Linked DNA regions of Homo sapiens. Each later gene encodes a partner of the first gene's protein in a complex. Each region holds a gene or a part of one and is shown on either strand. Other genes may lie near its edges.

Region 1 (3,906 bases):
TCTCCCCATCCTAAATGTGTCAGCTCCTCACCAGAGCCCCAGGCCCCAGGCCCCAAGGTCCATTAGGACACCAGAGACTTGCCTTTCCCTCTCTCCTCCCTACACCCTGTGTTTTCCCCTCAATTTTCAGATCTCAGCTGATTTCCTGGGAGGGTTCTCATGTCCCTCTTGGAGACCTAGGAAGCACTGCCTCCCATGTCTAACAACTGTCCTTAAAGCCCTGGTCATGCCTGTCCACCCACAGACTGGACATTCTGTGGAGGTCAGGGCTGTGACCTGGCCGCCTAAACCCAGGGCAGTGCCTGATTATAAGTGGACACAGGTCACATAAGGGTCCAAGCTGGGTCCAGAGAAGATCCCGGCTGTCCTAGATTCTGAGCAGGGAAGCTCAGCTGCTTGCCGACCTGGAGGGGCACGGAGGGGCCCGCAACCTGGGCCAAGGGACAGAGGAAGGGAGTGGCCTTTACGGCTTCCTCCTGGGTGCGGCCAGGGGAGGTGGCAAATCCGCCACCCTGGCTTAGCTTCACTCTGCCAAGGCCTTTAACCTCTTCCACCTTTACCCACCAGCCATGAGCCTCCAACCCCCCACTCCCCACTGCCAGCCCCTCCTCGGCCTTCAGGCCTAATTGCACCTACTTGCCACAGGGTCCCTGAGCTCTATGGATCCCAGAAGAGCTGTGGACAAACCGGTGCCTGCTTCCTTCCCCGCCCCCGGGAGATCTGGCAGCCTCCAGGTGTGGCTCTCCACCCAGGCGCAGACTTCCACAGCCCTGACACCTCTGACCTCCCTTCGCTGGACTGCGGGAGTGTGTATCCCTCTGCAAAGTGGACAGTAGAGCACAGCAGTCCCCGCCTCATAGGGTGTAAGCCTGACAGGAGTTACAGTGACCAGTGACTTTCTCTCCTGGCCTCAGTTTCCTCACCTGTAAACGGGGTATGCTGGGAATCCCTACCTCAACATCCTGAGAAAAAAGAGACTGTGTATAGAGTTTTGTCCTGTAATCCCAGCACTTTGGGAGGCTGAGGCGGACAGAACACTTGAGGTCAGGAGTTCGAGACCAGTCTGGCCAACATGGTGAAACCCCATCTCTACTAAAAATACAAAAATTAGCCGGGCATGGTGACGGTGCCTGTAGTCCCAAGCTACTCGGGAGGCTGAGGCATGAGAATTGCTTAAACCCGGGAGGCGGAGGGTGCAGTGAGCCAACATTGCACTGCACTCCAGCCAGGGCGACAGAGGGAGACTCAAAAAAAAAAAAACAAAAACTTTTGTACTTGGTTAACGTGAACGCTGCCTCCTTAAAAAAAAACAAACAAAAAAAAACCCAGGAACATTTAACGTGAATGTCAGGGACTTTGGGATGAGTCCAGGGACCTAGAAGTGCGGAATGCACAAAGGAGCTGGGAAAGTGTGTGAGCCTGAGCCCAGGGCTGCAAGTTGGGAGTGCCTGAGTGCACAGGGAGGCCACTCCAACCCTCCAGCTGCCTCTAGGGGTATCAGAGAGGGAGCCCGTCCCCACTGGCCACCAATACCTCTTAGGCCAGGGCGAACACGTCCACGGGGGTATATTCAACTTGTGACCCCAGTCTCTGCGAGAGCCTGCAGTAGCATGGGGGGGAGAGACCTCGCGTTCTCTAAGGATGGAGGACAAAGGAGGAGAGACTGGGAGGGCAGGGACGGTTGCGGAACGGTCACAAGGCCTGGGCGCGAGGGTTTGGAAGGCAAAGGTGCGAGAGGCACCAGGTGACCCGTCCTGCGTGATTAGCGGTCGGACAATCTGAGCCTGCTAAGAGCTTTCCTGACCACGCTGGTATGAAGGGCGGCTTGGAGGTGACAATGGGGGACGACAGGGCACAGCAGGTGTGGAGACGGTGTGCAGGGCCGGAGCAAAACCGTTAAAGGCAGGTGGAGACACCCTCCTCCCCTCCCCCAGCATGGGGTCTTCCTAGCACCAGTGCGCGCCTTCCCACAAGCGATGAAGTCCAAGTCCACGTGCTGGGGGAGTGTCATGAACTGACGTGCGGTGCAGCCAGTGACTAGGCGTTGTCGGTGCGCGGCGGCGGGGCGAAGCCTCGCGAGGGGTGGGAGCCCGCGCTGCGGGGCGTCACTCACCTGCGGCCTGGGCAGAGGTCGGGGTGGAAAGCGGGCTCGCGGCGGCCTCCAGGCCTAGTCCGAGGCCGAGCAGCAGCAGCAGCGCCAGGCCCAGAGCCCCTGTTCGCCACGCTCCAACCTGCGCCATCCAACCGCCGCTCATGCTGTCCCCACAGCGGCGCCGGCCACGCGCTGTCCAGACCGCTCTCTTATCCCTGCGCACGCGCACGCGCGGGGTTGGGGCGGGGCCCAAGCCCCTGAGTTCTGCGGCGCCCGCGGCTACGCGTACCGTAAATGTCAGAATAGCAGGGAAAAGAGAATTAGAGGCCCGTCCCCACTTTCCCCAGTGACCAGATCAGTTGAAAGGTATGGAGCCCGCTTGAAGTTAGAAACTTCTGGGGATGGGAAGGAATTTGTTGGTGTTCATTTGCATTATTTCCCGTTCCAAATGAGGACTGCTGCAAATGTTACTGCCTCGTGATCTTCTTTAATATGGCAGCCACGCCCCTCAGGCACTCCGCATTTCCTCCCTCATCCCACTGCTTTTGTGGCGCCGACAGGTAATTTATTTTATTTACTTATTCTGGTTTGTTGTCCGAGTCCCCATAGAATGCTAGCTACTGGAGGGCAGGGATCTTCTGTTGCTCACTGCTTTATTCTCAGGATCTGACACATAGTGCTTGACTCATAGTAGGCTCTTAGTAAACATTTGGTGAGTAAATGAATAAATGAAACGTCCATTCTCGGAGTCGGGTTGCTTGGGGGGGAAAAAGGAAAGGAAATCAATTAATTAATTAAATTTAATAATAAAGGCCGGGCGCGGTGGGTCACGTGTGTGATCCCAGCATTTTGGGAAGCAGAGGCGGGCAGATCGCTTGAGCCCAGGAGTTCGAGATCAGCCTGGGCAACACAGCAAGTCCCCGCCCGCCTCAAGAAAAAAGAAAATTAGCTGGGCATGGTGGCTCTAATTTGTAGTCCCAGCTACTCAGGAGGCTGAGGTGGGAGAATCACTTGGGGCTGCACTCCAGCGTGGGTGACAGTGAGACCCCATTTGTTAGAAAAGTTGGCCGGCGCGCTGGCTCACGCCTGTTAACCCCAGCACTTTGGGAGGCCGAGGCAGGCGGATCACGAGGTCAGGAGTTCTAAACCAGCCTGGCCAACATAGTAAAACTCCCGTCTCTACCAAAAATACAAAAATTAGCCGGGTGTGGTAACATGCTCCTGTAGTCCCAGCTACTAGGGAGGCTGAGATGGGAGAATCGCTTGAACCCGGGAGGCGGAGGTTGCAGTGCGCCGAGACCACATCATTGAACTCCAGCCTGGGTGACAGAGTGAGACTCTGTCTCAAAAAAAAAAAAAAGTTGTGGTCATAAAACTTGGTTCAGATGCCGTCAGCGGCATGCCTTGCCTAGGGTCTTGCCCTCCTTGTGGCCTCTGCACACCCTGCCTAGTCTTTCCTTCCCTCCTGACCTTTCTGAATCTGATTCATCCTTTTGCCCCAAGCAGAATCCCACCTTCTCCAGGAAGGTGTTAGCCTTTGTAGGACCCACTCTGGGACACTGGTACCTGCTGCCTGTAGCCGTGGCCTTTCCCCTTCCAGAGGGCAGGGCGGTCTCAGCACCCTCTTGGTCCACAGCTGATCTTTTTTAGCTGCTGAAGGGTCTGGGGCTGTGCCCTGGGGAAGCCATGACACTCCCCTGCGTAGGGTCACTGGGTGGCTCCTGCAGCCAGACTTGGACACCCTCCCTTTGCAGATTTCTGTCTCCTCCCCAGGAACCAGCTGCCTTCCTTCTGGGGCGAATTCATTCTTATCC
Region 2 (3,906 bases), on another chromosome or scaffold:
TTTTACTTTATTTTTAGGACAGGGTCTCCTTCTGTCGCCCAGACTGGAGTGCAGTGGTCTGATCTCAGCTCACTGCAACCTCAGCCTCCTGGGCTCAAGTGATCCTCCCACTTGTAGCCTCTAGATTAGCTGAGACTTACAGGCACACACCACCATCCCTGGCATTTTTTGGTTTTGTTTGTTTTTTAGAATCAGGGTCTCACCATCTTGCCTAGACTGGTCTCAAACTTGTGGGCTCAAGCAATCCTCCTGCCTTGGCTTCCCAAAGTGCTGGGATTACAGGCATGAGCCACCAGTATTTCTAATATGTATGGGAAATATGCTGTCTTCCTATTCCTACTCCCCCACCCTCTAGCACTGAGTCCAGGTAGGTAGGCAGGGGGGTGTCTCCCTCCTTTACTTCGACACCCTAACTACCTTGGGGATCAGAAGTGACTCTCTGGAAGGATGCTGCTGCTTCTCACCAGAGGCTGACGATAACGAAGGCTATCCTCCATGGCCACCTCCTCCAGGCTGCCTTCCTGGAAATAGGAATCATAATAGTTGTTACTGGAAACAGGCAGAGGGTTGGGGGAGCCAAGGCAGTCCCACCCAGGACCAAGGTGGCTCCATTGCACACACTTCACCATGACTCCCCTGAAGGTCCAAACGTGCGGTTCTGCGGAAGTTGGGCTCCCCACTGGCCTCCCTCCTTCCTCAGAACCTCCAGGGGTGCTCCTCCTAGTGGCCACATCCAGCCTTTCTGACTGGACAACCTATCATTTAAAATTTTCAAGTAGTTCCGTAAACAGACACACGTTGCTGTATTTATTTATGTCAAGGGCTTGGTTTGTGATAAATCAGGCTCAAAAAGATTGTCTTAAAAGAGTGAACCTTGGCAATTTACCATAAAATAATTGCAATGCAGATTGTGCATGGAAATGATTGGAGATATTTTAAGGTCATAGTGTCTTCACAAATTGAGCTGAAAGGGAACTGTTAGGATGATCTTGCCTAACCCTCTCTTCTCACACAGGAAGAACTATTTTAAACTCGAGAGGTTAAGTGACCTGGCCAAAGTCACACAGCCACCACTAGTTAACTCGTATACATTGATTCTCCTGTGGGGCTGGGCAGATGAGGAATCTTTTGTTCTCTTCCCTGTTTGCAGAGATTTTTTTTGAGGTTACTTTCCGAGTTCTGGCAAGTACCCCTGCTTCTGGTAGCTTTGTGTCTCGATTCAATCTCATTCTTTTTATTTTATTTTATTTTTGAGACAGGGTCTCACTTTGTCACCCAAGCTGGAGTGCAGTGGTGTAATCTTGGCTCACTGTAGCCTCCACCTCTTGGGTTCAAGCGATCCTCCTGCCTCAGCCCCCCAAGTAGCTGGGATTACAGACGTCTGCCACCACGCCAGGCTAATTTATGGTTTTTTGTATGTGTTTTTTGTGTTTTTGTAGAGACAGTGTTTCCCCATGTTGCCCAGGCTGGTCTCCAACTCCTGAGCTCAAGTGATCTGCCCGCCTCAGCCTTTCAAAGTGCTAGGATTACAGGTGTGAGCCACCGTGCCCGGACTTAATCCCATTCTTTAACTTGTTTTGTTTTGTCCTCTCCAGGAGGCTCCCAGCCCTTTCGGATTGGTTGAGAAAAGTGGCCTGGCTGGTCTGGGGCCAGCGGCACCCACCCTCCCCTCAATTGCCCAACTCCCCCCCCCCACCGAACTGCCCAACTCCCCCTCCCCAACTGCCCAACTCCCCCACCCCCACAATCCCCTCCCGCCACAACTGAGGGAGGCGGTGCTGAAAAACAGCTGACTCCAGCAATGCTGCTCACGTGACCACTGCAGCTGCAGCTCCCGTTCCACTCCTTGTCCTGGGCTAGGTGGGCACTACCAGGGGCTCCTTTGGTAAGGAGTACCGGGTAGGCACCCGGTCCTGCCAATCCACCACTGGAACAGCTGGGGGGACAGCAGACAGGCACGGTCGGACAGACTTGACAGATCAGGCATCAGGCCCTCTGCGCTGGTCCCGGGCTCTTTAAGCAGGAACGTGAATGGCCTCAAGATGTCTCACATGGTCCCACTAGCCCTCCTCCTCCCTTTGTTCCCTACCTCCAGGAGGGCTGCTCTGCCCTTCCTTCCTCTGTTCTTTGGCCTTATGTTCCCCGCCACCACAGACCTTCCCCCGCCCCACCCCTCTGCAGACTTAGCCGTGCATTGCAGGCATGGAGGATTAATCAGTGACAGGAAGCTGCGTCTCTCGGAGCGGTGACCAGCTGTGGTCAGGAGAGCCTCAGCAGGGCCAGCCCCAGGAGTCTTTCCCGATTCTTGCTCACTGCTCACCCACCTGCTGCTGCCATGAGGCACCTTGGGGCCTTCCTCTTCCTTCTGGGGGTCCTGGGGGCCCTCACTGAGATGTGTGGTGAGTAACTCGCCTCTATCCTGTGCCTCTTTCCTCCTGGGTCCTTAGTGGGGTGGCTAGGGCATAGGATGAGGGAACTTACCTGCCCTTCTAAGCTCCCATAGCAGTTTGGGCTTAGCTGGACCTCAGCATTTAACACATCCTATTGTGATTGATTATATGTTTGACTCCTCACCAGACAAGATCTCCGTTAATTCAGTCATTCGTTCACACATTCATTCAGCGCATACTGAGCCTTTTCTGTGTCAGGCCCAGTGTTAGCCTTTGGGGAACGTGCAAAGCATGAGACAAGTCTAATCCCTGCCATCCTAGAGCTTATGTTCTAGGGAAGGGGGACAGACAAAAGAAATGGTTAGGTGCTCCCACCTGAAATCTCAGCATTTTGGAAGGCTGAGGCGGGAGGGGAGGATCGCTTGAGCTCAACAGTTCAAGGTCAGCCTGGGCAACATAGGGAGACCCCATCTCTACAAAAAATAAAAAAAATTAAAAAATAGCTGGGCATGGGGAAGACTTTCTGAAGACCAAGAGGACACATGGGAGCTGAAACTCGAAGGAAGAAAAGGAGCTGGCAGGAAAGGAGTGGGGGACACACATTCTAGGCAGCAGGAAGTGAGCCTTCGGAGGTCCTGCCTGCTCCAGCTCTGTGCCCCAAGGGGTCTCTTGGAGCACAGTCTCCTGGGACCTGTCTATGAGTCTGAGCTTAGAGGCTCAGGGCTGCTCCTTCAGACAGGAGGCAGAAGGCAGGCTTTGGGAACTTTGGGCCGCCCACGCGCCTTTTCTCCTCCTCTGCACCTAGGATTACGTTGAGCAATACACTTTCACCCCCATGGTCTCTTGAGACCCTGGGGAAACCCTGAGAGGTGGGTGCAGTCATGTCCAGGTGTCAAGTGAAGAAGTCGAGGGTTGGAGGGGCTGAGTGACCCACTCAGGGTGCTCCACCTTTTCCAGAGCTTTGCTGAACTTAGTTTTTAGAACTTGAAGCCTCGTTTGTTTTCGTTTTGTTTTTTGTTGAGAGAGGTTCTCCCTCTGTTGCCCAGGCTGGAGTGCAGTGGCACGATCTTGGCTCACTGCAGCCTCTGCCTTGTGGGTTCAAGTGATTCCCCCACCTCAGCCTCCCAAGTAGCTGGAGACTGCATGTGCATACTACCATGCTTGGCTAATTTTTGTATTTTTTTGTAGAGACAGGGTTTCGCCATGTTGCCCAGGCTGGTCTCGAACTCCTGGGCTCAAGTGAAACTCTTGCGTCGGCCTCCCAAATTGCTGAGATTACAGGCGTGAGCCACCGTGCCCGGCCAGAACTCCAAGCCTCTCATCTGTGTTCCATAAATGCAATCAGACACCTCAGGTCTGGGCCCAGGAACCCCAGCTCTTGGTTCATGTCCGGACAGTCCCCAGGGGAGTTCTGGGTTCAACCAGCAAGAGCTCTTCCTCCTGGCTGATCTGGTCCTCAGCCTTGGACAGTTAGTCCATTAACCTGACCCCACAGGAGCCCCAATCCCTTGGGGTC

The links.
Region 2: the proteins of CD320 (region 1) and TCN2 are in contact, whole or in part, in a crystal structure (PDB 7QBF), measured with the Homo sapiens proteins. Residues at the interface, in NP_057663.1 of Homo sapiens: Thr57, Lys58, Leu66, Cys67, Val68, Pro69, Trp72, Asp75, Arg76, Asp77, Leu78, Asp79, Leu133, Glu136, Cys145, Ile146, Pro147, Thr149, Trp150, Asp153, Gly154, His155, Pro156, Asp157, Cys158, Pro159; in NP_000346.2 of Homo sapiens: Asp70, Leu71, His74, Lys77, Leu78, Gln81, Gln82, Glu91, Asp92, Arg120, Gly121, His122, Lys123, Asp125, Arg126, Val128, Ser129, Lys132, Trp133, Glu136, Arg140, Lys169, Arg170, His172.

Annotation. Positions count from the first base shown.
Region 1 is NC_000019.10:8,306,036-8,309,941, forward strand, and holds the start of CD320 (CD320 antigen isoform 1 precursor), read right to left. Parts: upstream 2,324-3,906; 5' UTR 2,256-2,323; coding exon 2,114-2,255; intron 1-2,113. UniProt on the Homo sapiens protein: Receptor for transcobalamin saturated with cobalamin (TCbl). Plays an important role in cobalamin uptake. Plasma membrane protein that is expressed on follicular dendritic cells (FDC) and mediates interaction with germinal center B cells.
Region 2 is NC_000022.11:30,604,997-30,608,902, forward strand, and holds the start of TCN2 (transcobalamin-2 isoform 1 precursor), read left to right. Parts: upstream 1-2,177; 5' UTR 2,178-2,335; coding exon 2,336-2,399; intron 2,400-3,906. UniProt on the Homo sapiens protein: Primary vitamin B12-binding and transport protein. Delivers cobalamin to cells.